4 linked regions of the Homo sapiens genome follow. The protein of the gene in region 2 purifies or fractionates together with the protein of the main gene of each other region. This does not show direct contact. Each region holds a gene or a part of one and is shown on either strand. Other genes may lie near its edges.

Evidence for each region.
Region 1: the proteins of KDM4A (region 2) and CAPZA1 fractionate together in Homo sapiens (co-fractionation; one large-scale study listed by BioGRID). This does not show direct contact.
Region 3: the proteins of KDM4A (region 2) and WRNIP1 purify together in Homo sapiens (pull-down; one study listed by IntAct). This does not show direct contact.
Region 4: the proteins of KDM4A (region 2) and DNAJA3 purify together in Homo sapiens (pull-down; one study listed by IntAct). This does not show direct contact.

Annotation. Positions count from the first base shown.
Region 1 is NC_000001.11:112,659,143-112,666,548, reverse strand, and holds part of CAPZA1 (F-actin-capping protein subunit alpha-1), read right to left. Parts: intron 6,849-7,406; coding exon 6,770-6,848; intron 5,344-6,769; coding exon of another isoform or gene 5,314-5,343; exon of another isoform or gene 5,297-5,313; intron 1-5,296. UniProt on the Homo sapiens protein: F-actin-capping proteins bind in a Ca(2+)-independent manner to the fast growing ends of actin filaments (barbed end) thereby blocking the exchange of subunits at these ends.
Region 2 is NC_000001.11:43,689,726-43,697,131, reverse strand, and holds part of KDM4A (lysine-specific demethylase 4A), read right to left. Parts: intron 6,288-7,406; coding exon 6,083-6,287; intron 5,637-6,082; coding exon 5,560-5,636; intron 4,877-5,559; coding exon 4,821-4,876; intron 3,139-4,820; coding exon 3,030-3,138; intron 2,424-3,029; coding exon 2,238-2,423; intron 1-2,237. UniProt on the Homo sapiens protein: Histone demethylase that specifically demethylates 'Lys-9' and 'Lys-36' residues of histone H3, thereby playing a central role in histone code. Does not demethylate histone H3 'Lys-4', H3 'Lys-27' nor H4 'Lys-20'.
Region 3 is NC_000006.12:2,770,045-2,777,450, reverse strand, and holds part of WRNIP1 (ATPase WRNIP1), read right to left. Parts: intron 7,394-7,406; coding exon of another isoform or gene 7,338-7,393; exon of another isoform or gene 7,332-7,337; coding exon 7,090-7,331; exon of another isoform or gene 7,075-7,089; intron 4,514-7,074; coding exon of another isoform or gene 4,453-4,513; exon of another isoform or gene 4,400-4,452; intron 1-4,399. UniProt on the Homo sapiens protein: Functions as a modulator of initiation or reinitiation events during DNA polymerase delta-mediated DNA synthesis. In the presence of ATP, stimulation of DNA polymerase delta-mediated DNA synthesis is decreased.
Region 4 is NC_000016.10:4,451,848-4,459,253, reverse strand, and holds the end of DNAJA3 (dnaJ homolog subfamily A member 3, mitochondrial), read right to left. Parts: intron 4,444-7,406; coding exon 4,340-4,443; 3' UTR 4,327-4,339; exon of another isoform or gene 4,326-4,326; intron 3,709-4,325; coding exon of another isoform or gene 3,686-3,708; 3' UTR 2,479-3,685; downstream 1-2,478. UniProt on the Homo sapiens protein: Modulates apoptotic signal transduction or effector structures within the mitochondrial matrix. Affect cytochrome C release from the mitochondria and caspase 3 activation, but not caspase 8 activation.

The sequences.
Region 1 (7,406 bases), about 69 Mb from region 2:
TTTAAAAAGTAAGATAAAAGTAGTTCTGAATATGTAAGGTAAAGTGAAGTGCTACAATTATGCAAACAATTAGCAAAAAGGAGAAGAGACTAACAAGTCAATGACATTTTAGGTTAAGTTTTGGCAACTTAAGATAGGTTTAGTCACCTTGACAAGGCTACTAATTGGTCATACACAATAGGATGAGGGTATCCTTTTGTGCATTTGAATAGGATCTTGAAAACAGTAGTTGTCACCTAAGTAGACAGGTAGAGAATGACATCTACACCAAGGAGATAAAAAAGTATAACAGAATGGAGTATAACTGGTTTAATTTGGAGAAGAACAAAGAACTCACTGCATATGAATATGTGTAAAAAAGGAGTGTGGCAGGAGACATTGCTATGAAGTGGAAACACAGACTGTGAAGAACAAAGCACCTTATAAACCATGTTAAGAATTCAGACTACTCAGGAGGCTAAGACGGGAGGATCACTTGAGGCCAGAAGTTTAAGACCAGCCTGGGCAATATAGCAAGATCCCCATCTTAGGGAAAAAAAAGAATGCAGATGTTATCCTATTATAGGTGACACACGGGAAAAGGAATGTTTTAGAAAGATTATACTTGTGCTATGAAGAAAATAAAACGAAGGAGCTGCTATTGGAGACATAATGCCAGAACAATAGTCCAGGTAATGCCATTTATCTAGTGCTATGATTTTAATGTTGGTACCTTCCCAAAATTCTTATGTTGGACCAATATGCAATGGGATAATATTAAGAGGAGGGGCCTTTGGGAGGTGATTAGGTCATGAGGATGAAGCCTTCAAGGGATTAGTGCCGTTCTAAAAGAGGCTCAATCAAGCTCTCTTGCCACTCTTCTACCTCATGAGGACAGTGTTCACCCCTTCTGTCACGTGAGAATGCAGAAGGTGTCACCTATGAGAAACAGAACTCACCAGTCACTGAATCTAACAGCACCTTGATCTTGGACTTCTTAGTCTCCAGAAGTATGAGGAATAAATTTCTGCTAAGGTATTTCTGCTAAGGTATACCAGTCTAAGGTATTGTGTTATAATAGCTGAAACAAGGCCGGGCGCGGTGGTTTATGCCTGTAATCCTAGCACTTTGGGAGGCCAAGGCGGGCGGATCACTTGAGGTCAGGAGTTCGAAACCAGCCTGGCCAACACGGCGAAACCCCATCTCTACTAAAAATACAAAAAAAATTAGCCAGGTGTAGTGGCAGGCATCTGTAATCCCAGCTACTTGGGAGGCTGAGGCAGGAGAATTGCTTGAACCCAGGAGGCGGAGGTTGCAGTGAGCCAAGATCATGCCACTGCATTCCAGCCTGGGTGACAGAGTAAGACTCTGTCTCAAAAAAAAAAAAAAAACACAAAAAAACCCCAAACAAAGACATCTAGTCTATGCTACCAGGAGATATGTGAACAAAACAGAATGTTTTGAGGGATAAAGCAGAAAAGGAAAAGAGAAGAACAGTAATCTTCACTTACTTCATCTCACTTACTCAGTAATCTTAGCTGTAGGAGCTATTATTTATTAAGCCTTTACTATGTGTTAGACACTGTGCAAACACTTCACTATTACTTATATTCCCTCATTTAATCCTTTTTTTTGAGACAGAGTCTTGTTCTTGTCGCCCAGGCTGGAGTGCAATGGCACGATCTCGGCTCACTGCAACCTCCGATTCCCCGCTTTAAGTGATTCTCCTGCCTCAGACTCCCAAGTAGCTGGGATTACAGGCACCCGCAACCACGCCCGGCTAACTTTTGTATTTTTAGTAGAGACGAGGTTTCACCATGTTGGCCAGGCTGGTCTCGAACTCCTGACCTTGTGATCCACCCACCTCGGTCTCCCAAAAGTACTGGGATTACAGTCATGAGCCACTGCGCTAGGCCACCACATTTAATCTTTACAAAAACTCTTATGAGATGAGGACTACGACTAACCCTATTTTACAGCTGAGGAAACTGAAGTTTGCCTTGAGGCAGTTATTAAACAATAACTTATCCATGTTCACACACCTAGTAAGAGGAGGAGCTAGGATTTGAATTAGGTCAAATTCCAGAGCTATCCAACATATGTAATACCTCCCAATGCTATGTTTTGTCAAAAAGTTAGAAATTCCTTGATCTGGGGAGAAATAGTGTCTCAGCAGGGGCTTACTCTTTGTGGATATCATTAGAAGGGCATAACTAACAGTCAAGCTTCATCTAGGCAGAAAGCTATTTGCAACAAAAAGACTTTCCTGGATAACAAGAACCCCCTACCTATCCTTGTTTAAAGGACAAAAATAAGTATCTTTTTTTTTTTTTTTTTTTGAGACAGTGTCACGCTCTGTCGCCCAAGCTGGAGCACAGTGGCTGATGTCGGCTCACTGCAACCTCTGCCTCCTGGGTTCAAGCAATTCTCCTGCCTCAGCCTCCCACGTAGCTGGGACTACAGGTGCGTGCCACCATGGCCAGCTAATTTTTGTATTTTTAACAGAGATGGGGTTTCACTGTGTTGCCCAGGCTGGTCTCGATCTCTTGACCTCATGATCCCCCTGCTTTGGCTTCCCAAAGTGCTGGGATTACAGGCGTGAGCCACCGTGCCCGGCAAGTATCTTCTTGAATGAGGACAAACAGCTGGCTCTATCCAGATGGGCATGAGAAGCTAGACTTTCCATACCCTCTCTAAACCCTGAAATTTTACCTTTTGGCTTTCTAAGAGGTTAAAGAAGAAAAGACAATATAAGAATCTACTGAGAACAGGCATGGTGGCTCACACATTTAATCCCAGCACTTTGGGAGGCCGAGGTGGGCAGATCACTTGAGGTCAGGAGTTCGAGACCAGCCTGACCAACATGGTGAAACCCTGTCTCTACTAAAAATACAAAAAAAATTAGGCAGGCATGGTGGCAGGTGCCTGTAATCCCAGCTACTTGGGAGGCTGAGACAGGAGAATCACTTGAAGCCAGGAGGCAGAGGCTGCAGTGAACTGAGATTGCACCACTGCACTCCAGCCTGGGTGACAGAGAGAGACTGGAATCCACTGGAGACAAGATGAGAATCCAATGGAAAAGAAGGGTGATAATAAGAACCACTAATACTTACATGTAAAATCAGAACAGCAAAGATGTGGGCAAAAAAGACTGGGCTAAATGATGATGACATATAAAGGTTAAAATCCCAATAGATAAGAATATTTAAAATACAAGTAGGTCACAATCAAATATCAGTTTTGTTTGTTTTTTCATTAAAAAAACTAGAGGTTCAGGGACTGAAAAGAACATTCAAAAGGGGAATGAGCCGGGTGCAGTGGCTCACGCCTGTAATCCCAGCACTTTGGGAGGCCAAGGTAGGCGCATCACGAGGTCAGGAGATCAAGATCATCCTGGCTAACACAGTGAAACCCGGTGTCTGCTAAAAATACAAAAAATTAGCTGGGCGTGGTGGCATGCGCCTGTACGCCCAGCTACTTGGGAGACTGAGGCAGGAGAATCGCTTGAACCCAGGAGGCGGACGTTGCAATGAGCCAAGGTCGTGTCACTGCACTCCAGCCTGGCGACAGAGCAAGACTCCATCTCAAAAAACAAAACAAAACAAAAAGGGGGCAGGGGGGAATTATTACAAACAGGATGGGAGATATTTAAAAAAACAACAACAGATCTGGCCATAGAAGAAACAAGAACTTCTGTATTTCTCAGAACTTGTCTAAAGAGAGGAGGTATGCAGAGCACATTCTTTTTGTTCGAGAATAAAGACTATACAATTAGTTTGAACTTCTGTTATGTTTTTTAATTAGGACATGGAAAGGAATATAGGGTAAGGTCAATAAGCCTCACTGTTTTTGATCTCAATGAAAAATTCTAGGGCCAGGCGCAGTGGCTCACGCCTGTAATCCCAGCATTTTGGGAAGCTGAGGGAGGCGGATCACAAGGTCAGGAGTTCGAGACCAGCCTGGCTAACACAGTGAAACCCTGTCTCTACTAAAAATACAAAAAATTAGCCAGGTATGGTGGCGGGCGCCTGTGGTACCAGCTACTCAGGAGGCTGAGGCAGGAGAATGGCATGAACCCGGGAGGTGGAGCTTGCAGTGAGCCGAGATCCTGCCACTGCACTCCATCCTGGGCAACAGAGCGAGACTCTGTCTCAAAAAAAAAAAAAAAAAAAAAGAAAAATTCTAAAAAATATTAATTTCATTACCTAATACACTAATGTTATTATAATTTTTAGAAATTAACCCAGCCTGGGCAATATAGTGAGACCCCGACTCTACAAAAAAATAAAAAAAGTTGGCCAGGTACAGTGGTATGTGCTTGTAGCACTAGGTGCTTGGGAGGATGAGGTGGGAGGATCATTTAGTTGAGGAGTTTGAGGTTGCAGTGAGCTATGAAAGCACCACTGCACTCCAGCCTAGGTGACAGAGTTGAGATACACCGTTTCAAGAAAGAAATTAAGCTCAAAACTTATGTGTTCTAAGACCTTTTCTAGGTCTCATCTGCTAATATGAAAATGGTTCAATTAACTAACACAAATTTCAACATGATTGTCATCAACATAAATCCTCAGAAATTGTTGCCTTCTCAGAACGATGTTTTTGCCTATAGACTAGCCTGAAAGGCTAAATATCTTAACGACTTTTCCAAATAATTCTCACTCCAAAATTTAAAAGATATGTAAATGAAATAAGCTTTCCCCAAAAGTGTGCTCAATCTGTGCTTAAAAAGGTTTAAATGTGGGTCTGTACACTGGGCTGTATTTTGAATCTTACCATAAATTATCACCCTTTGTGATGTGTGCTCTTATTTTATAGGTTTGCACTGGCAGAGCTAAAATACAAATGGCTGTTTCCATCTAGAAACAAAGTAAAATTTATTTACACAAAATTTACAATAAGCTTCTACAATGCTGATACCATGGTTCTAGGAAGTTAATGCTAATGCCACAGTTACAAGAGATCTAGAGCGCTAGGCTACTAAGATATTTTGTTAACAGAAACAGAACAGTATGCTGTCTTAGGTTGCACCTTCCCAGAAGGAGACCCCAAGACAAAGATTAGAGAAAAAGTAGTTTATTCAGGAGCGAATCTCACAAAGCTACAGTAGGGGACAGAAGAAGTGGGACACAGAAGGGAAGGAAGCCTTAGAGGTACGTTTATGAGCAGGTTACAGCTGTGGGTATTGGGCTCCGGAAGACTAAACAGAATGTGCTTGAAAGTTGTCCTACTTGAGGAAGCTGCCATATTTATCTACCAACTCTTACATATCACTGAGGGCTCCTCCTAGAGCTGTGAACTCAACACCAGCCTGTCTCACCTGAGTTGGGCATGCTCCTATGGCCAGGAGCTACTTGTTGCAGGAAGCTATAGGTATATATAAAAAGAGCAGATTTACTTTTACAGAATTTATTACCTATGCACTTGATTAAATTAGAGCATTAAAAAAGACAACTCTTGGCTGGGCACAGTGGCTCACCTGAGGTCAGGAGTTCAAGACCAGCCTGGCCAACATAGTGAAATCCCACCTCTACTAAAAATACAAAAATTAGCTGGGCGTGGTGGTGTGTGCCTGTAATCCCAGCTACTTGGGAGGCTGAGGCAAGAGAATTGCTTGAACTCAGGAGGCAGAGGTTGCAGTGAGCCAAGATTGCACCACTGCACTCCAGGCTGGGCGACAGAGCGAGACTCCTCCTTCTCCTCCTTCTCAAAAAAAAAAAAAAAAAAAAAAAAAGACAACTCTTGGTAATTGTTGTTAAAGCACAGCTTCACATAATATAATACAGGTACGATTAGGTACTGATCTTCTCGGTTACCTGTACCTATTCTGACCTTACAGTTAGTGAGGCTTAAATATTAAATCACCCTGAGTTTAGAAAGTCAAACCTCTGCTAGGATATTAAACTTCAATCCAGACAGGCATCAAATGAGTTAACAGCTATCTTATTCAGCTGCCTGTCTACCCTGACATCAGCATTAAAAATCTACTTCTGGGCCAGGTGCAGTGGCTCACGCCTGTAATCCCAGCATTTTGGGAGGCCGAGGCGGGTGGATCACCTGAGGTCAGGAGATCGAGACCAGCCTAACCAACATGGAGAAACCCCGCCTGTACTAAAAATAGAAAATTAGCTAGGCGTGATGGCGCATGCCTGTAATCCCAGCTACTCGGGAGGCCGAGGCAGGAGAATCACCTGAACCCAGGAGCCAGAGATTGCGAAGAGCCGAGATCATGCCATTGCACCTCCAGCCTGGGCAATAAGAGCAAAACTCCATCTCAAAAATCAATCAATCAGTCAATCAATCAATCAATCAATCAATCTACTTCTGCTTGGCTATTTATATTCCAAAACACCTGCCATTCTCTCTAGTTATAATTTTTAGGAATTAACCCAGCCTGGGCTGGGAGGTGGAGGTTGCAGTTAGCTGAGATCACGTCACTGCACTCCAGTCTGGGTGATGGAGTGAAACTCTGTCCCAAAAAATAATAATTATTATTATTATTAATTTTAAATCTTTCCTAAAACTGCTGTTTGATAATTCCTAGTTATATCTTATGTTACCATTGAAGGAAAAATAACAATAACCATGTTGCCATACACTCTACATGCTATCCTTTATCAACTCAGAATAGCTCTCTCTGTTTACCACCCCAAGAAGGAGGCTTCTATTTCTATTCACTGCCATCAGTCTCCCTTTGCATCTACACATACTTGGTCCTTATTTAATACCAAAGCAACCTGCACATGTTTTAAAGATGTGAAGTTTTAAGTCTATAAACATGTTGGAATCTCACCTGAATCTTAAGCACGCCAACCACCTGGGCTGTAGGTGGTGTGATGGTGAACTTCCACTCTGATCTCCAACGACCATTCCTATTAAAACACACACACAACATTGCAGAATTAGCAATAAGCACAAGAAAGAGGTGATTTGCCACTGAGGTACAGAAGTTGGGAAAGAGGGGTGCAAAAAAAGAAAAAAAAAAAGAGAGAGAGAGAAACTGTCATTTCCAGTTTGGCAAACCCAAAGCTCTGTCTACTCAAATGTAAGTCTGGATCTAAGTGGCCTGACCATAAGCCTTTTCTAAGTTATTTTGTCTTTCATTTTTCCTTTTTTCCCTTGAAATGGAAAACCATGCCTATTCTGCTCATGGGAGGCTCTTCCAAAATCAGATGAATAGGCTGCTGAGTTACACAATTAACTCAAGTAGCAGTAACCCTAAGCCAAGTAAAACTCAGATTTTCAACAGGGCACTTTACTAATCACTTGTTCTCACTCAAAATAAGAGTAACTTTTAAAGGAAAATATAATTATAAAACCTTAGAACTGTAAGGAATCTAAATCCCTCATTTATAGATGGAAAACTGAAGTCTGTAAGTTAAATAATTATTCCAAGCTAGTTGGATTAAAAACCAAGTCTCAACTGCTGG
Region 2 (7,406 bases):
GTTCTTCTACCTGAGATGCCATTCCCCAGTTACTTGCACACTGACTCCCATCCCAGTGTCAACTTATTGATGTCATTCCTTACTACTTCATCTTCCATTCCCCTTATCTGACTTAATTTTTATCCCTGCACTTCTCACCATCTGCTATACTGTGTATTTACTTGCTTCTATGTGTCCTTCAACTATACTGTATGCACCAGAAGGGCAAGGACTTTTTTGTCTTGTTCAATGGTATAGTCCTGGCACCTAAAACTGTGCCTGGCATATAGTAAATGCTCAATAAACATTTGAAGAATAAATCAGTGAAAAAACTACTAACTCATCAGTCCCCCCAATTTCCTCATAGCACCAGCAGTCTACAGCTGCCAGCTTAAGCATGTGGAGTATTAATGATTATCACAAAATAACTATTCTGTGTATGAAAAAACTCTTCCCTATCATAGCTGTGACTCAGTACTACCTCAAGTTTTTACTTGCATTAAGGGCAAGTTCAGAATGAGAAGGGCATGGTGAGGGCACCAGGGATGGCTAGGGCAGGGCCCTTGAGACACTCCGGAGTCTCATTCTCACATACAATATGTTCCCATCTTCCTAAGGTCCTTCCTATCATACCCCTGACCACCTGTCACGTTCAACATCTTTATGAAAAAGAATGCAGTCAGCCAACCAGGACTTTTCTGCAACCCCAAATGGCAGAGTGAAAAGTTCATCCTTCTGGGCTGGCCATCTATCACGTTCTTCCTTTGATTATGTATTTACCACACTGTTGTCAAACTTGTATGATCGCCTCTTCTATTAGATTGTAACTCACTCATGGCAGAGCCTTCCCCAACTACGGTCTGGCTTCTGACCTGACTACTCCACAGGGACACTCCAGTTTGTGGTACTTAGTGACCACCACACCAGCCCTGCCTTCTCTGTTGGATATGACCCTCCTTCCTCCCACTGGCTTGCTTCACTTTCTCAACTGCTTTCACTGGTTCATGCTCTGCTACCTGCTTCTCCCACTGGGAATCTCCAGAGCCCAGTTTCTAATGGGAACTAGATTTAACTATGCTGTTAAATGCTAATAGCCAAATCTTTACCCTCACAGTTACTCTCCAGAATGCTCCAGTGACCTCAGCATTTACTTTCCTCTTTCTCATCCCTCCTTCTCTCCCTTGCAGAGCAACACTGCTTCATCTCAGTTCCTGATTGCAGTTACTAACATCATATTAGCATCCTTCCCATCTCTCAAGGGAGTAACCTGAGTCATCTTCAATATTCACTCCCCCTTTCCTCCTCCTCTCCCCTTCTCTCCTCAACCCACGAGGGTCAATAAACCCTATCAGTTCTACCTGTTGGAGGATCTCAAAGTTAAATGTACCCCAAAGCCCTGCCTATGTGTTCCCATTTCAGACCTCACTCTCTCCTGGACTAACTGGTTTTCCAGCCTCAAATTCTTACTCTGAATCCTCTCTTCAAACAACCACCTGAGTGATTATCAAAAACTATAATGCAGAATCAAAATATTCAACAAGTTCTCATCCAGTGAAGACAGGTCAGAGTCCTGAGAGTGGCAGTGCAGGGCCTTCATCCTCTGCCGTTGTCCGCCTCTCAAGCATCACACTCCCACACACCGTCACACTCCCATAACCAGTCTTTCATGATCCTTCTTCTGCGACCTGTTCATTCTGTTTCTCAAGCTCTGCACACAACAGTCTCTGCATACAATTCCTTCTTATTGTTTAAGACCCACTTCAAATGCCACCGTCTACCCAATCCTCTTCAGAGCTCCTCTAGCTAACATTACATGTCACTTTTTCTCTAAGCTTTACCATTAAGAGAACTGCAGAAATCTCTACTGTCTGGCAATTCATGGTTAACTCTTGGGAGCTCTCCCCATTTGTTCTCAACATTTTCAGAGGTTCTGCATGTCCCGGACACTAGGTTAAGTAATAAGGATGACCACATTAATAAGATATGGACCCTCAAGGAGTTTATTCTGATGGAGAGGCAGACAAGTAAAGAGATAATCAAAACGAATCAACTACAAGCAGTTTGGTGTCACTGGCTTATGGAGTACAAGGCAGGGAGTGGAGATGGACAGGGGCCACCTCTCAATCTCTTAACTCATTAGCACTCTTCATAATGCAGAATGCTTGAGGAAATAGTTGCTGATACAACAAATGGAAAACATGCAGAGAAAATGACCATGAAAACTGTCAAGAGGATTCTAGAATGACACCCTCTCTCACCTCCAAATTAGGAATCTTGTGCCGAAAGCAGGTAATGAAGACCACAAAAGGCCAGTCGTCAGGCTGCATCATCACACCGGCAGCCTGGGCGCAGCTCACATGGAAGGCAGTTGGGCAGCGGCCGTGAGAACACTGCACACAGCAGCCAGCAGTTCTTTTCCTCCGCTTCTTACAGAAGATACATTTCTGTAGCACAGGGGAAGAAAACCAGTGATTGCAGGAACTGGCACTGCAGCTTCCTCTGTTGTTCCCCTCCCAAATGCAAAGCCAAGCAAGCAAGAGCCAGCCCCTTCCCAAAATACAAGGACACACCAGCCTGCTCTAATCCAGGTCTGGTTACAACTTTATCTGCCAAGGAAATTTTTTTTTTTTTTTTTTTGAGACGGAGTCTTGCTCTGTCACCCAGGCTGGAGTGCAGTGACACAATATCGGCTCACTGCAACCTCCGCCTCCCGGGTTCAAGTGATTCTCCTGCCTCAGATTCCCGAGGAGCTGGGATTATAGGTGCGCACCACCACTCCCAGCTAATTTTATATTTTTAGTAGAGTCGGGGTTTCACCATGTTGCCCAGGCTGGTCTTGAACTCCTGACCTCAAGTGGTTCACCCACCTCGGCCCCACAAAGGGCTGGGATTACAGGTGTGAGCCACCACACCTGGCCTCCACTAAGGAATCTAACCACAGAGTGAGAATCACAAACTCTAACCAAAACCAAGGGGTACAGGAGGTCCCTGTTCTCTTCTACCCAGAAACTTGTAAGTCGGGAAATTATGTAGAGTCTACAAGCCCTTACCAGTTTGAAGCGGGGCAGGGGGATTTTGCTCACATCCACCGGACTTCTTTCTGCAATGTTGACAAACCTTGCTTCCAGAATTGCCACAGCACATGAAACGTGGACCCACCTGCCAAAAGGCAAAGGCTCCCTCAGTCACCTCTGGGCCCAAGGCTCTGTGGCCTTCTCTTTTGGGCCTGCTGACAGCGCTTCCTCCCTCACCTGGGTGACCACTGACTTCCACCAGCACATGCCTGGGACCCAGGAAGGTGAGAACCAGAACCGTCTCTCCTCTGAGTATGTGGAAGCAGTGCCACCCCCACTGCCCACCTAGGCCACTGCCCACTGCCCTAGGTTAGCACCGGATCATGCTTCTTACACCACTCTGTTGAAAAATGAACAGAGCTGCAGGCTAATGGTGTGTGGCAGGTCTCAGGGAGTGAGAATAAACTGGAAAGCTCTATGCAGACCTCTTTACCATAGGACCCAAGTGCTTCCTGAAAACGTCCCCGGCTGTGCCCTAATCTGCCAGTAATCACAGCTCTCTCTCGGCCTCTGCCCAAACCTCTCCCCCAGGCTGAAATGACCTCTCCCTTCTGCTCCCTTTTTCCATAGCTGACTCACTCTTTAATCTTTAAGGTCTGACCCAAGCCCCACTTACTCTGAGAGGTCTATTCAACGGACATCCTTAAGAATTAAAGTAAGTTTTGGACATTTTGGGAAACCAGCATGCATCAAGAGGAGAAGAACGAAAATGGTGACAACTCTTAAAACCATGCTACGTGAAAACCTACACCAGACAACACTGGGGCTCCATGGAAGCTCTCTGCAGTTCTAGTGGGGCTGTCTTTTTAGAGTGGGAACAGATTTGTTCTGTGTGGCCCTGGAGGGCAGAACAGGCATTCAGAGGTAAAGGTGAGAGATTCAAGCACAGCCATTTCCACTCCAAATAAGAAAGAATGTTCCCAGCACTATCCTGTGACTGTGAGGAACCCAGTGACCTCAAATAATGGCAGCAAGTGCCTTTGAAGGAGCAGAAGCAGCAGGCAGAGTAGCTATCTCTCAGGGACAGCATAACTGGGACTCTTGAGGGCAGGCGGCTGGACTGAACATATGCTGCAAGTTGCCACGGGATTCTACTTGGAAGCAGGATACTCAGCACTGACCTGCACGCACCATGCCCTAGACAGCTAGCTCTTCCAGGTCAGAAACCTCATTCATCTTACGTTTCCACCTCAGAGCAACCAAACACAAGCCTAAGCACAAAGATTCACTCCATGAAAACGAGCTGCCCAACAGCTGAGAAGCCCAGAAAATTCAGCAGATTCGGTTCCATAGTGGGTGGGCCTGTCTGAGCTCTCCTCAGTGTCCTCCTTGAGCACACTCGCCTCATTCCAAACAGCAGGTCTGAGCCAGGGAGTTTGCCATGTGGAGAAGTGCTTGCTAGCCTGTGGCCGCCTCTGCATACCAGCCCCAGCTGTGACAAGGTGAATGTCCTCACTCCAGCCCACACAGTCCCTGCGCATCATCTTCGTCTTCATATTCTCATGAGTCCATTCTTAGCTTCTCCAAAGGAGGATGTCACTGACATCTCTGCTGCAGAGGAGCAGCTGGAGTTGGAAAGTCTGGGACTGCTTGGCTCCCTTAGCATTCCATTTTTAAAATGAGTCTTGGAGATGCTATTCCTGCTCCACACGATGTGCTTCCCAAATCCTCATCAGTCATTCAGAAGAACAGCTAGTACCCTCACAAAGACACTGTGTGCTTCGGAACTGAGCCTGTGCATTCCAAGGCACTGCTCAGGAAACTTACCTGTCATCATTTGCTCTCTGCAGGGCCCCTCCTCGTAATGAGCATAAACAGCAGTCCTGCCAAGAAAGGAGAGGGAGGAAAAAGTGGTTAATACCAAGTCATTAACATTCAATCTGCTCTCCCCTGGACCTGCTTTGGGCAACTCCTCCACATAAGAAAGAAGCATAATAGCATGTGGGGCTTCACCCAGGCAGCCCCTGCACCAGGACGCCCTGTCAGAAGGAGAGGCCACTCAGGGCTAAAGTGTGCCAAGTAGTCACGTGACTTCACATAATCCTCTTCATTGTTGCTGCTAATAACAACTCTTAGCAAAGTCACAAAAGATACTTTGCTCAAACTAGAGGCATGACAGGGCTCTGACTGCTTCTTATATGGGCTAGGTACAGCCAGGTTCCAGGGGGTACAGTGAAGAGAAAACAGCACAATGAATCATCTGAGCCCCTTTCTGAGGCTCCAATTCAAAATGGCTAAATTCTTTTAAGGGAGTTATTGTTCCTCCACAGGAAGACCACTAGTTGGTCTTTCCACAATGGAGCAAACACAGCATCCAGACTCCGTAAGTGGGCAGCAACCATTCTCACGGTCATAGGATTTACTCTCACAATACTCGCTCTCTGACATCACCGCGTACCAGACCCTATGCAGACTGCTGGGAATACTGAGTCCAACATGAAATCGTCTGGCCCTGAATATGCACCAAGACTCATGGTGAAGACAGTAACAGTGTGGGATCACTCACCTCCTCTAGGGCATTGGCTGAACACCGAGAACACATCCAGTCTTCAGAAGCCTTTGCAGGGGGGACCCCATAGCAACCTAACAGGGACACCAAGATGAGCAAATTAAACCCAGTGGTCAGAGTCAAAAGGTAGATTTGCAATTCCTTTCCATATACCACCTCCCAAAGCTACAACCAAATCTCACAGAAACCCCTTAGTTTTCTTTAGTCTGAGTCCCCAGGGCTCAGGCATACAGTATGGCTCAAAGTCTCAAAAAGTCAAAAACTGTAGATTCACTGGTACAAACACCTAGTAAGTGGCAGGGACTAATCCCTTTCTGCTATCTGCAACCAAGAGGATGGCAAAGAGATGACTAGTGCCAGTATGGACCCCTGGAGACAGTGAAAAATCAGCTAGCAACAGACTCCCCAATAAAACATCAACAATCTTTTTGGGGCTGGGAGGCCAGGAGGTGGCAAGAACTTCCAGTGAGCAGGCCCATACTCCTGGGACAGGACACAGAGAAAGGTGAGCAGCACTCACTGGCATGGACCCGGACGCTGCACTTCTTGCAGGAAACGAGTATGCTGGTGCCATCCTCCTCAAGATAAGGAGTAGAAAGGTTGATGTCCGTGCTGCAGCCAGTCGAAGTGAAGCACATTTCTGGAATCAATGGCTTGGTCCTCTGCTTCTGGGGGGCTAAATCTGAAGCATTTCCACAGTTCTGATTAAAGCCTCCAAATTCAACCTAAGGGGAAAGAACAAGTGTACACCTCAGTGAGCACGTGCCTATGCTCTTAGCTTTCCACCTGCTCTATCAGCAGAAAGCTGGCTCTCTTACCGATCTGACTATGGCTACAGCTCCCGGGTGCACAGCCATTATCCCGGAGCTGCTAATTGAAGTTACCTGTAATGACTCAAATTCAGTTTCTCACAGCAGCATCATACAAAGGCCCCTAGGGGACAACTGAGAAAAGGGAGCAAGGTAAGAGGCAACTGGGATTTCAATCTTCCCAAAGAAAGTGGTTAATAAAATGCACTGAGAGGCCAGGTGAGGTGGCTCACGCCTGTAATTCCAGCACTTCGGGAGGCCGAGGCGGGTGGATCACCAGAGGTCAGGAGTCCAAGACCAGCCTAGCCAACATGGTGAAACCCCGTCTGTACTAAGAATCCAAAAATTAGCTGGGTGTGATGGTGTGTGCCTGTAGTCCCAGCTGCACTCCAGCCTGGGCAACAGACTGAGACTCCGTCTAAAAAAAAAAAAAATGCACGGAGATGTTAGCAGCTAGGCTGCTACTGTGGGCTCCCTTACGTGCTACACTGTGCGGTGACCCCACCTCAGGAGTGTACCCAGAGCAGATGCTCCTAGTAGGCCAGCACTAATTGCCTCTTGTGCCTGTCAGCAGGTCACCTGAACTGCAGCACTGTCACATGGCTGGAGCCCCACCTGTGTGATTCCTGGCTCAGGGTCCCTCCAGGAAGAACTTAAATCCACATACTTCCCTTGGCAAACTATACTGATTGCAAATATCTGCTGGATGGCACCTGCATCTCCATTCCAAGGATGAGGCCCAGAAAGATGTCAACCCCAGAGCCTATGCCATTTGTGAAACTCCTACTTAGTAGATCTGCTTATAGTAAGAACCCAGCCATTCACTCCCCTCATAGGCAAAGGCTTTGGTTTTGCTTTTTGTCAATGGAAAGGTTTAGTGAGTTCCTAATCCAAAGTGTGTTGGTCTGAGGTTCCATTTTCAGCAAGCATGAATCTGGGGCCCTGCCAGGCTCAGCGGCAGCCATGCCACTTTAACCACCACAGCAGGTAAGGACCACTTACCTACCTGCTATGCTGTGCAGGTCCCAGCTGAGA
Region 3 (7,406 bases), on a different chromosome or scaffold from region 2:
CAATTGAGGGAAGAAAAAGGAGTCAAAGCAGGAGCCCCATTGGATCCTAACGGACTGAACTAGCCTATATCCTGCACCATGGGTTGGATTGTGTGTTGATTACATTACATTCATCATCCCTACTATGCGGAGCACCTCAAGGAGAGGAATATTTTATTCTTTGTATTCCCAGACCTGGTAGATGATAGGCATCCAATATTTGCAAAATGAATGGACTAACTTCAGTTTTATCATAATCTCAGAGTGAAACCTTTACTTCTTATAAATTATATGGAAAGTATAGAGAAAACAAAAAGAATCCATATTTCCAGCACTGAGAGATAAAAATGTACTTGATATTTCCAGCAGAATGAAAGCTACTGTGCCAAGTGCTGACTTTACGATCCACTCACCCATGCAACCATCAACCTTACAGCTAACCTAAAACAAAAACTGGGACCATATTTTACATAGTTTTACATCCTTAACCATTAAATAATTGTTTGAAAAACAAGCTACTCAGACCTGTCAACATTTACTTTAAAAAAATTTACATTAAATTTTAAAAATAGACAAAGGGAGAAAATTCACCTTCTGCTAGACTACCTTGACGTTAGTATTTTGGTATGTATCCCTTCTCCATGAATTTGTCTTTTGTATGTATTTAGGGGCATGGCATGCTCTTTGGACAGTGACGAGATGGGCAGCCTTATATACCATGGTATTTACTAGTATAAACTGCCTCATTTCCATTAGTCCTCATATACAGACAGGGAGGCAGGCCTTATTAATTAGGACAGAAGCCAGCTAGCCGTCTACTCCATTGATTTATCAACAGTATGCTGTGAATAAGTCTTTAGCAATGATTATGTATTTTATGTGGTTGGAAAATAAGGTCTTCCTTTGGCTTTTAAACTCCTGACCAAAGTACAAGTGGTTCCACACTTCTGGTTTGGAGTCATGGGGAATGGAGGTGCTGCCACAACGAAAGCTACCTGAGCTCGCGCCACTCCCTTCTTCTTCCTCCCCTTGGGTATAATCCACATTTTAAATTTCACCCCGTCCAAAAGAAGAAAGTATTTCGAGGCCCAGATCAATCTGTCGGCAACTCTGTCCAAGTAATACAGGACCTGCTGACAGCACTCACAATGATCACACAAGAAAATTACAAAATGGAGATTCACTGTGAAGACGACTGAGCAGGGAAAGGTTCCACTTAAACACCCAATATATCTTGAACTCCCATTTACTAAGTTCTGAAGAACGAAGTAAGATATACTAAAATACCCTGAGATCTTAGAATGGGAAGCCCATGAGAGAACTCATGCCAAGAATGATGAAGGGATAGTTGTATTGATATTGGCAAAATCCCTCAGCAAACTGCGGCACAAACTATTTTGAAAGAGTGTTCCCAGTCTAGAGAATTTACAATTATTTTTAAATTTAAGCATATATTAAAATTAAGCATATATTTATAAAGTGTTTTGCACTTAAAAATAACCTTCCAAAGGTAGAATACAATAAAAAGAGGTAAAATCTATTCTGGGGATAGACTGCCCAAAATGTCATAACATCCTACATGGAAATAAACAATAGGAAGTAAATTATGTTGTTATAATAAAACACTATTTATAATAAGGGAAAATTGGTTAAAATAAATGCATTGGAAAAGATTCTATTTCTAGTTAACAAAACCTAGAGATAGAAACAGACTTAAGAGAGCTTGGCTTCTCCAACTGATGAGAAGGGCTTTAATTTTAACAGAAGAATATAGGAAGCTCTCTTCTTTCCTCTTCCAGGTGCCTAAATCCTGAAGCTTTCTACACATTGGGTAATACTGGAATTTGGAGGATACTACTTAGACAGCTGGATATGTAAGTTGGAGAAGGAGTGCAGTAAGTAAAAATGTACCTGTTATTTCAAGGCAGAATGAAAGAATATGCATGGCTTGGTTAAACTCTCCCTCTCTAAATTACAAACCAAACCCCACAAATCTCTTCCACTAAGGAAAAGGAACATTTCATGGTCAGGGTGATAACTGCTGTGTAGAAGTTTCAACCAGGGATATGCATCAAGTTAGACACAAATACAGCCACATGTACCTTACCTACCATAGACTGAGCTCAAATCTCCAGGGGCAGACCCTGGGCAAGGCATGTTTCTAAAATGTATCCCAGGGAAGTGTGATGTGCAGATCTGGTTAAAAGGCTCTCCTGCTGCTCTTACACAAAGAAGTGCCAAGAGAGAAAAGTCAGAACAGAAAAACCGAGCAGTGGGTCCATCCTCTGTAAACTTGGCACCTCCACCCCTTGTAGCACTTGAAGTCACTGAGAAGACAGAGACATGCCTTAAACACTGGCTCCATCACATTGAAGCTGGTTGGTCTTGGGCATGTTACTTAACCTTTTTGTGCCTCAGTTTCCTCATCTAGTAAATAGGAGGTAATGAGATCTACTTTGCAGAGCTGTATTGAGGACTGAATGAGATTAAGACATGTGGAATGCTTAGAGCAGTGCCTGCCATGTCATGAGACTCGACAAATACTGCTTTGGTATCAACAGCGAGGAGAATCACCCTCATCAGACTGTGCAACAGCATACTCTCCAGAACTGCACATATCCAAGGCAGAGCCCCAGATGCTGCCGCTTCCATAACATCAGAGTGAAAGCAAAGCAAAACAAAACTGACTTTCTCCACAAAGAGAGAAGGTACATTTCAGATGACGACGTCTTTCTGTTTAATCCCATGGAGGCACATGTCTTTCCAAATTACATTATACTTGGTAGGGGTCTGTAGTGGGTTGAATAGTGACCCCAAAAGATGTAAGTCCTAATCCCTGGAACCTGTGACTGTGACTTTATTTGGAAATAGGGTCTTTGTAGATGTAACTAAGGGTCTCAAGATGAAATCATCCTGGATTTAGAGTGTACCTTAAATCCAATGACAAATGTCCTTACAAAACACAGAAAAAGAGAAGACGTAAGGACACAGAGAAGAAGGCCACCATGTGAAGATGGATGTAGAGACTGGAGTGACATAGTCATAAGCCAAGGAATGCCAAGGGCCATCAGATGCTGGATGAGAGCATCGCCTTGTTGATACCTTGATTCTGGTCTTCTGGCTTTCAGAACTGTGAGGATAAAGCTCTGTGTTCTGAGCCACCCAGTTTGTGGCAATTGTTACAGCAGCCACAGGAAGTGCATCCAAGGACCATGAGATCTGTGGTTCTGGCTGCTGGTGCTTTTATGGCATTATTTTAATGCACCCTTGTATTAAAACAGCTATGTTAATGTACTGTATTAATGTACTTAAAAAATTTTTAAATAAAAAGATTGACATCTACTCTATACCAACCATTTATTCTGGCCAATCCCTTGTATTCTGGAGTTCCACTACCTTTCTTTCTATTCAATGGCACAAAAGGTTATTTAAGACACTTTAAACTTTTATAAAAAGAAGAATCCATAGCCACCTTGTTTGGGGGCCAGCTTGTCAGGGGCTCTCCTCTCCAGATGATTAGAGAAAAGCCCCACACCCAGTTACGCCACAGCCCTTACCCAGGGACAGACGCCACTTTCTGTCTTCCAACCACCTCTCGGAACTCAGCCTAGCTAGGCAGAGGGCAGTTATGGCTTCTCATTTCACTCTCTTGATCTCCAAAGACTTGTATACTCTATCTGGTTCACAAATAATTGATTCTTTAGGAGTGTTTTTGACTATGTATATATTCTATGACCTAGGAATCTATATTCCTTCAAAGCAGCAAGTAGTGCAGGATGACGAAATGCTAGCTTACTTTTTCATTTTCAGCAGCACAAGCTCATTCTTCGTATCATGAATCATGGACATTTTTTTCCTGGCCTCCAAAATTAACCCAGAGCAGACAGAATCTTCACTGTTTGTATCATGTGATCCAAATATTTTTGGGAGAGCAAAATACCTGAACACTACTGCTTAGCCATACAAACCAAAGCAACTATGGCGTAGACAATGAGCTTTCTATTTCACTCAGTTAAATTCTGCTTATCCTTCAAAACTCAACTCCGCATCCCCTCATCTAGGAGGTGAAATACTGGATTTCACATATTCTGAATGCTGCTTCTCTACGCCCACTGCACTTGGCGTATAAGCGTGGCACTGGAAGTGGACCTGCTCCCCTAGCCTTCATCATACTGCGCTCCCTCTGAAGGCACAGGAACAAGCTTTTCAACCCTCAGCCAATGCCTAGCATATGCAGGAGCTTCAATTTTGACTGAATAATAACTACAGGAGGGAATTTTTTTTTAAAAAAAGAACACTTATTTCACTTTAATGGGAATTTATCACTTACATGAGTATACTGTGTGACAACTCACAATTCCTCAAGTGCAATCAAGAACGGCTAAGCGGCAGCTTGATTAGTTTCCAAATCCAGTGCCCTGCTCACCTCCTCTCACGTGCAGTTCAACAGCCTGGGACTTCTCTGTAAATGTTCTAGTTGCTATCTAGGGCACCAAAACATGACACAAGAATACAAATGCACACCAATAGCTTCCTGGAGAGAGAAAGTAAGTATATGGGGTTGGAAGTCTTTTCTTTCAACTAGATTAGTGTCACCAAATCTGATTTATATGCACAAGGATGTATATAGAGCTGTCAACAGGGATTGGAAAGCAAAATTTTACCTAAAACAACTAAAAGACATCCCAATCCACTCTTAATTATCCCTGACAGTTGGGGTGGCAGGTACTTGTATTCGGAAATCACTTGTAAGAGTTCTTTCTGTGGCCTATGATATCTCCTAACTTAACTTCTTGTTAGAATTGCTAACAAGTTGACCAATTAATGGTTTTAAGCTTAACATTCTTTCATTTTACTCTGCTTGCTGCTGATGAAAAGGGCAATAGTATTAAAGAAAAAGGCTCTTGATACCTGGGTAATTATCCCTTATGCTGGATAATGCAAAACATATTAAACTACTTTTCTCATATCGAAAGCTAGGATTTATTCATTTCCAAACCATTCACAAAGCACATAATGTGTGCCAGGCACTGTGCTGGGGATATGAACAGGGACAAGCTCCTGTCCTCACAGTCTTCCCAGGAAAGCGGGGGACACAAGATAGCAAATATAATTGGGATCAAGTCTAAGCAAGCGGTAGTGGAAATAGTAAATCATTTACTGGATATGGGAAGTTTTCTCTGAAAAGCAATTTTAGCAGATAAACAATCTCTAGCTCATTGTTATATCAGTTTCAATAACTAAATCTTAATTATTTCACTTGATCTTCTCAAACTTTAATGTGCCTGCAAATCACCTGAGGATTTTTAATAATAAAATATAGAAATTCTTCTCACAAGGATGAGCTCCTTGGCTGCCGCCTTTCTCATTTCCTTTAAATTCCTGCACGGCAGTGACTGGGGAGAGGTGAAAAAACCTGAGGGTATCTGAGTAACAACTGATTATTATTGACTTCATGTCATCAATATTAATTATTGATTTCATGTTCTATTTCATGAACTGATGACATGAAATCAATAAAAATCACCCCAGACAAGTACACATGCAGAATATTAAGTTGCAGATACATTACGATAACCAGTACACAGAGCAAAGAACACACAGAAACATGAAACATGTTAGGATTTCCCCCCTTTTCTTTCAATTTGTCTTTACCATGTGGTTCTATGCGTCTGTAATGAGAATTCTGTTACGGGAAACCTACACATGAGTATCCCACATCTGAAGTGCCTGGGACCAGAAGTGGTCTGAATTTCCTATTTTTTTGATTTTAGAATATTTGCATTATATACTTACCAGATGAGCACCCAAAATCCAGAAATCTGAAGTGCTCCAATAAGCATTTCCTTTCACAGCATCATGAAGGTGCTCAAAAAGCTTTAGATTTGGGAGCATTTTGGATTTCAGATTTGGGATACTCAACCTGTACTACATATGAGGAGCTGGCAGCCCCCTTAGGCTCTGACAAATGCCCACCACATAAAGCACTTCTGAGTATGAGTCCATGTGGCTGATACCACAGGTTCCACACACTGCTTGTGGCCACAGATGTAATGGCTATCCCCATCACAACGGTATTCCAAAACAAGGCCACTCTGTCCTACCCAGTGGTCCACGGGCCAAATGTTTCAATGCTTTCATTAGACACAGCAGAATTCTCCCTCCATCTCAGACAGGAGCAAATGGGGCCAGACACATAGGGAGAGCCTGGTGAAACCTAAACCCTGAGCCTAAACTATGCCTTGTACTTTAATCCTCACAGAAAAGTGGCTCCAGAACTTGGCCTCAGGGCAGGCACGAGCAGCTGCAGAGTCCACAGCAGGAGGAGGTGGGCAATAGCCTCTCATCACACCAGATTATGTTCCATGGCAGTATTTCAGCCAACGTATGAACAAATACCATCTGAAGAATATGTTCTAATATTAAAAAAAAGGAAAACCCCTGACCCAAGAAATCAAATTATCTATGATATACACTTGGTGCATTAACGAGCTCATGTGGTACTCATGATGCAGAAATAGGTCACTAAAAGGATAGGGACAGCCTATAATGTCATATTCAGTTAACATTCCTTTACTTTCATGAAACTGAGTTTCAACTACACAAAAAGGATTACATAATTTTAAGGTTACAAGTTAATTTTTACTTGATTTTTTTTTTTTAACAAAATGCTAAACTGCAGGTTAAAAAGAAATTGAAACATGAGTACAATGCTCAAAAGAGTTGTATGGTAAGTCTAGAAAGTATTTATCTATCTATTTGTTCTATTCAATGAGGGACATAAAGCCTTTCAAATCATCAATAAGGCTTCCCATAGAAGCCTAAGCACAAAAGCAAACACCCAAGAACCAAAACAACAAAGCAAAGTTAAAGCTTGAAGAATTATAGAAACACATATTAGAGGCTGGAAAATGCATCTTCAAGTGTGCAGGGATAACTTTGTTAGGTATAATCGAACATTTCCCTCCTCTTTTATTTTCATTACGGGCGGATCAACATTTCTTCTCTGTCCCCACCCTCTCCTCACTGACGCCCGGCCCTTTCTGGCCCCCTGCCAGGAGACTCTCTGGGAGGTGTGTGCCCCCAGGACGCTGCACACTGTCAACTTACTCTGAGCTGCTGTTGCTGCTGTGGCTCAGAGGGTCAGTGGGACGGCTAGAGTCTAGGACGTGGATTCCCAGGGAGTTGATCGCTCGCATTAAAATAGTCACCATTGCCTCTACTGGAAGCTTCTCAAGAACAATCACTCGACAGCGGCTCAGAAGAGCAGCGTTGACCTGGAAGGAAGGGTTTTCAGTGGTTGCCCCAATCAGAGTGATCGTCCCACATTCCACGTGAGGAAGGAAAGTGTCCTAATCATGGGAGGAAAACAGAAAAAAGTGATTCCAGTCAACAGCCACCTGCAGAATCCTATGTAAGTTGGCTAT
Region 4 (7,406 bases), on a different chromosome or scaffold from region 2:
AGCCGGCTCTGCAGTGCTACAAACACAGAGGGGCAGGGGCAGCTGGAGGCCTGTGGGCCTGGAGAGAATTCTTGCACACTGTTTGGTTGACAGGGAAGGAAACAAAGGCCAGGCCACCAGAACCCAAAGGACTATGAGTGAGGAGGGGGCTCAGGTTGGAAACAACCCAGTCCCAGGCCTGAGGTGGGAATGGGGCTGAGGACCAATGCCTGAGAGCTGGCCTTGTCCACCCTCCTAATGTTTTTTTTGAGATGGAGTCTCACCCTGTCACCCAGGCTGGAATCCAGTGGCGCAATCCTGGCTCACTGCAACCTCCACCTCCAGGGTTCAAGCGGATCTCCTGCCTCAGCCTGCCGAGTAGCTCGGATTACAGGCGCCCACCACCAAGTCTGGCTAATTTTTGTATTTTTAGTAGAGACAGGGTTTCACCATGTTGGCTAGGCTGGTCTTGAACTCGTGACCTCATGATCCGCCCACCTTGGCCTCCCAAAGTGCTGGGATTACAGGTGTGAGCCACCACGCCCGGCCCACCCTCCTAATGTTTAAGCAAGTGCCAAACATGTACCTCCCACAGGCTCACAGGCCTAGAAATACTTTATTTTCTTGAGACATGGTCTGGCTCTGTCACCTAGACTGGAGTGGAGTTGCATGATCACAGCTCACTGGAGCCTTGAACTCCTCAGCTCAAGCAATCCTGCCACCTCAAGATTTCTAAGTAGCTGGGACTACAGGTGCCAAGCCACCACTCCCAGCTAATTTTTTAGAATTTTTTTGTAGAGATGGGGGTCTCACTCTCTCGCTCCTGGGCTCACACATTCCTCCCTCCTTGGCCTCCTAAAGTGTTCAGATTACAGGCGTGAGCCACCATGCCTGGCCCTTTTCTTATATTTTTAAATACATACTACTACTCAGAAGCTATAAAGAAGTCTGGTAACAAATACATCAGGAGCACAAGTGGAAATAAACCAAACCCAGGCCCAGAAAGAGCACTGAATTCTACAGCTGTTGCACGGCCACCTTTTTTTTTTTGAGATGAAGTCTCGCACTGTCGCCCAGGCCGGAGTGCAATGGCATGATCTCCAATCACTGCAACCTCCACCTCCTGAGTTCAAGTGATTCTCCTGTCTCAGCCTCCTGAGAAGCTTGGATAACATGCATGTGCCACCACGCCTGGCTAATTTTTTTGTATTTTTATAGAGACGGGGTTTCACCATGTTGGCCAGGCTGGTCTTGAACTCCTAACCTCAGGTGATCCACCCGCCTCAGCCTCCCAAAGTGCTGGGATTATAGGTGTGAGCCACCTCGCCTGGTCATGCACAGCCACCTCTAATCCCTTGAGGGAAGGATGCTTCAACACAACAATGGTTTCTGTTTAGCAAGAAAATCCACCTTTCTCTTCCAAAGTCTTTCTCTAGACTTCTGCTTTGAAGCAATAGGACATGAATGAGACTCAGGGTGACTGTTCCAGGAATAAGCCCAAGCTTTCACAAGAGACACGGTCTAGCTCCCCACTGCTGTATCCCCAGGAACTAGAATAGGGCCTGGTCCATACTGAGTGTCCACAGTAGGCAGGCAATCAGTATTTCATTGATGAAAATACTGGGAAGTATCTGAGATGAGCAGAATGTCACTGCTGAGCCTCTCCTGTCCGTCAGCTCTTTCCCGAGTCTCTTCTCCACCTGACCCAGCAAACAGACTCTCATCTCACCCTGCTCAGCCCAGAGTGCCAGAGTGGACTGAGCTGTGTATCAGGGCCCCTCTAGCCACGCCAGGCATAGAGCGTGGCTGGGAACCCAGAGTAGCCAAACTATAATACATAAAAATTTTGGTCAGGCATGGTGGCTCACACCTGTAATCCCAGCACTTTGGGAGGCCGAGGTGGGCGGATCACCTGAGGTCAGAAGTTCAAGACCAGCCTGGCCAACATGGTGAAACCCCCCATCTCTACTAAAAATACAAAAATTAGCCAAGCGTGGTGGCATGCACCTGTAGTCCCAGCTACTCAGAAGCCTGAGACAGGAGAATCGCTTGAACCCAGGAGGCAGAGGTTGCAGTGAGCAGAGATGGTATCACTTCACTCCAGTATGGGCGACACAGCGAGACTCCATTTAAAAAAAAAATAAAATAAAATTGAATGTAAAAGATGCAAAGACTGGAAAGAATGAAGGGAAACAATCCAGTGAGGGAGACTGAAATGCAGGGACCCAGGGACATTGGCCAGCTCTCACAGCATGGGCTCCCAAGAAAAAAGTCACATCCAGATTCTAGAACATTCACTCACAGGGGACTGTTGTGTCATGGCAAGCACCCTGCTCTGGAATCCAAGTGAGGGTCAGCACTGTCGGCACCCCAGACCCATCTGCCTCTATGTGCTCTGGGTGGCTGTGAGCACAGGATGAGGCCAGCCAAGTCTCCTGTAACCCCCATAAGCCACCTGCAGAGGCTGTCTGAATTCTTTCAAAGAAGAAATGACCACAATTTAGGTTTGAAATATCTTTTTGCAATAGATAATCTTATTTACATTAATACAGAATCATTTTACATTCCTAAATCAGACACTAATAGATGCTTTATTTTAGTGAATTATAAAGGAAAACAAAAAGGAAACTGTTGAGAAGTGTTCTTCATTAACCTGTCTAACGACAGCCCGAAGATCCTGAAACACATGGAAACTGCGACATGCTACCAGCAGAGGCTGGGGAATGGGGGTTCTGCTCTCACTGAATGGTGGGGAACCTTCAACTGCTTAGCCTGTGCTTTCCTTTTCTGAATCAACATTTACAAAGGAAAAAACAATGATTAGCACTGAATAATTTAAACACACTTCAGAAAATAGATGTCAACAGTGTAAGTGGGAGAACCAAGCCCCTGACTAGCAACAGTGGCAGGGCTTCAGTTCCCAAGGCAGCTGAAGTCTGGCCAGCACAGTGCTGCAATGGGCTGTGGCTCAGCAGAAGGGCAGGAGCCCTCCATGCCTGGCTTACAACAACAGGACTCAATAGTCAGGGACAGGCGGCCATCCCGGATGGGGTGGGAGCAAGGACTGTACATCCTGACAAGGATCACCACCCACACGGTCAGAGCAGAACCCCCAGGGACTCTCTGGGCCTCTACGTGCCTCCCAGGCACCGACTGTGCAGCTGCTTGGTACCCCGGGAATAAAAACTAACTGAGCAGAGCAGCTGATGCCTCGGCAGGGCCCCTCATTAGGGGAGGACGGTGCTGGTGGGGCCTGGGGGCCCCACGCTCCCAGTGAAGACAACCTGTCAGGAAGAACTCATTCTGGAACCTCCCGGAGGTTTGCTGAGAAGGAAATTAATCACTTCGTAACTTGATGCAGCTTAAGGCTTCATTTCTAAGCTGTAAGCATGGCCTTTAACTAAGATATCCACAATATTCAATTCCAAATTAGAGTTTTAGCCCTGCAAGAGTCTAACCATCTCCCTCTGCCTGAGCCAGGGGCCGTCACCTACCAATGGACAGGAAACTGCCACCAGCCTCTGGGGCTGCATCCTACTGCCCGGGCTGTCCACTGTGACCTTTCCGTGGAGAGAGGTGTTGTCCCATGATTTTGCTGTTGCCAAGGCCGTCCAGAGGCTCTGCGGGTGGGAGCTCAGTGCTGCTGTTCTGGAATCCTCCCGTCTCCCAGGTGCCCTGGCCCTTGGAGGGGCTGCTGCTTCCCGGCCTAGTTTCCAGTGGATCTTTTTCCTGAGCCAAAGAGATAGGCTGTTACCTTATACTCAACATTTCAAGGGAACACACCCCTGTGGGGAGCGTCTGTTAATCCCTGGAAAGCAGCTGTGCCAAGAGAGGGGCGAGAACCCCACTTGCTGAGATGAGCATAATAAACCAAAGTGGGTCCCAAGATGACACGGCGAGCAAGCGCTACCCCTGGAGCAGCCCCCAGGCTTGCACAGCCCTGCGCTGTCCACGCAGGAGGGCAGCTTCCAAGCAGGCAGGACGTGAGGAGATCTGAGTTCTAGGCCTGGCTCTGCCTGACTCGCCCTCTGTGACCATGGGCAAGCCGGACCCACCACTGCAGGGGGGCTGTACAACAGCCCCAGCATCGCCACCTCCCCAGGAAGAAGACACAGCCAGAGGCTGGCCGCGGCAGCCCAGCCAGTCCTGCACTACAGGCTGATTGCCACGTCATCTATTCCCTAGGCTGAGAGGCCAGCTCCTAGTGGAGCTAGGTTTACCACACCTTGGACTGGCACCTGTTCCAACTCCTGGGGGTGGGGGCACAATATTGGTTAAAGTGGGAGAAAACCAGGATTAGTTCACAGAGGAAAACAAAGGGAAAAAAAACCTCCAGGGTTTTCCTACCTCGGCTGGGATATCATGAGGTAAACATTTTCTTAAGTTTGGAAAGGAATCCCTCCTCGTCCTCCCCAGCCTCACGCCTAGCCTTGCTTCCTGCGGAGCTATCCATGGTGCTGCCACCTGGGCACAAACAGCAGAAAGAACTGGCGTCATGGGCCTGCACTTCCACAGTCACATCCCAGGGCCCACCTACCCCCGCCTGGCCACCCAGGGGCCCACGTTCAAGAAGCGGCCAAGTGCCACCTCAAGAAGAGTGGGGGCCACTCCTAAGATGGCACAGGATGCCTCACCTTGCAGACGACTGAGGTGAACAGGCCACTCAGAGCCTGAGGGTCTCCCAACTGCTCTTTCAATCAAGGACCCACAGCAGGGAAACAAGAAATAGAGACGGACTATGACAGCTGTCTCTATCTGAGCAACAGTGACAAAAACACAGTCAAGTGCCAGGCACCTCCCAGGCCAGGCCATACACTTCCTTACAGGCAAATTTCACAGATGAAAAAACAAAAAAAGGAGGCACAGAGAGGTTACAGGGTTTACCCAAGGCCACAGAGCCAACAAGCGGGAGGGAGGACTGAGTGCGAGCCCATGCAGTCTGACTCCAAAGCTGAGACTCAACCACCATGCTGTTGGCTATAAGAAGGTAAATAATGACTGCCAAGAAAAACCCTACTCTAGACCAACTGGCCAGATTCCATGCTGCTGTGTGCGCAAAGACCCTGCAGAACAGCCCATGTGGGAGTCACGGCCACGCACAATCCTTTGTCACAGGCACTCCATCTCATCCCTCACATCAGCAGTCTATCTCCCTGAGCAAGTTGTCCCCATTTGGGGCACCTAACCTAAATGCTCTCAACCTAGGGAAGCTGTGCTGCAATTTCTTTAGGGCCCAGGCTGACACCATCTAGAGGTACTTTCTCACACAAACGTGTTACAGATTTGCCAACTACTAGACAAGGAGTGCACACTTTTGTTGTGAGTTAGAATATAGACCTGAACTTGGCATGTTAATTGTAGAGCTCATTTTTAATGTGCTCAGAGACCTAGGCCACGCACAGTGCATAAAAGAGTAAAGGCCTCAGTCTAAGTAAGAAGGTGCCTTCGCTAGTGAAAGGTCCAAAGTTTGGGGCCACAGGTCCCCGGGAAGGGGTGAGGGAGGCTACATAAAACAGAGTGAGACCCAGTCTCAAAAAAGAAAAGGCCGGGCACAGTGGCTCACGCCTGTAATCCCCGCACTTTGGGAGGCCAAGGCAGGCGGATTGCCTGAGCTCAGGAGTTCGAGACCGGCCTCGAACATGGTGAAACCCATCTCTACTAAAATACAAAAAATTAGCCAGGGGCGGCATGCACCTGTAGTCCCAGCTACTCGGGAGGCTGAGGCAGAATTGGTTGAACCCAAGAGGCAGAGTGCGTTGCAGTGAGCCGAGATCACGCCACTGCACTCCGGCCCGGGTGACAGAGTGAGACTCCGTCTCCAAAAAAAGAAAAAAAAAAAAAGAACAACAAGGAGCCATACTGTGTCTCTCACTCAAAAAGTCACATAGTAATTGCAAGCCCCCCCAGTTCCCTCTCTGTTCGCCAGAAGATGGACCTGTTTATCCCTGCAAGTGCTGAGTCTCTAAGCACACCATGGTCTTTCTGGGAGACCGGGGTCAGCTCTTAAGGTTTTCAGCAGCTACATTAAGATACTAAACGCATCAAAAACTATGCTGGTCAGGCACAGTGGCTCATGTCTGTAATTCCAACACTCTGGGAGGCCAAGGTGGGAGGATCACTTGAGTCCAGGAGTTTGAGGCTGCCGTGAGCTATGACTGCACCACTGCACTCCAGGCTGGGCCACAGAGCAAGACTCTGCCTCAAATAAATAAATAAATCCCACTGTTGCTTAAGTTCTTAGGACATGAGAATTATATGTCCTGTAATACTGTCATATGTGGATGCAAAACTAACTGTCTTCACAGTATAATGAGAGACTTAACCACCCACAGGCAGCAGACTGACATGTGACGGTGTATGCTTAGGGACAGAGTCTTGCCCTGGCACCCAGGCTGGAGTACAGTGTCGCTGTCATGACTCACCGCAGCCTTGAGTACTAAGGCTCAAGTGATCTTCTCATCTCAGCTTCCCAAGTAGCTGGTGATAGAGGTGCATACTACTTTGCACCTGGCTAGTTTTGAAATTTTTTGTAGAGACAGAGTCTCGCTATATTGCCCAGGCTGGTCTCGAACTCCTGGGTTCAAGTGATCTTCCTGCATTAGCCGCCCAAAGTGCTGGGATTATAGGTGTGAGCCGCTGCATCCGGCCTCACCAAGATCTTTAAAAGGAAGAGCTGACAGTGTCTTGCACACAGGAGAAGACATCCTGGCTGAGTGAGGGAACAGCTGAGTGAGGCTGAGTGATCAGGACAAGTAACCATGGAAGTGACAAAGGATCTCAGTGGGTGGCGGAATCAACTTTCAACTTACAGTATCAGAGAGAGGGTCAAAACATCAACTGGTGACCAGTAATACCCAACCTCCAACAGAGTAAGCAACACCCACGAACCCACCCAGGGCCCGGCCGTAGCACACCTCAAGCTACCCTGATGGGCGGGAGGAGGGAAGGACAGCTGTCTATGGAACCAATCTCGCATGTTATGTGATTGTAGGGTTTGAGGAAGGAGAAGCCACAGGTGCACTGATTAGAGTTCCGGGGAATAGCTACTCTATTACCACTTCTATTTTAGTTCAAGAGATACAACAAGAACAAAAGATAGTATACATATACACAGTATATGTACCAAACCATTAAAATAAGTGACATTTGGAACCTGGTTGGGCTACAGAGTTTTGTGGCAGCTGCTTTTTTGTTGTTGTTTTTTTGAGACAGAGTCTCGCTATGTCACCCAGGCTGTAGTGCAGTGGTGCAATCTTGGCTCACTGCACCCTCTGCCTCCTGGATTCAAGCAATTATCCTGCCTCAGCCTCCAGAGTAGCTGGGATTATGGATGCCCACCACCATGCCCCGCTAGTTTTTGTATTTTTTTTTTTTTTTTAGTAGAGACAGGGTTTCACCATGTTGGTCAGGCTGGTCTCAAACTCCTG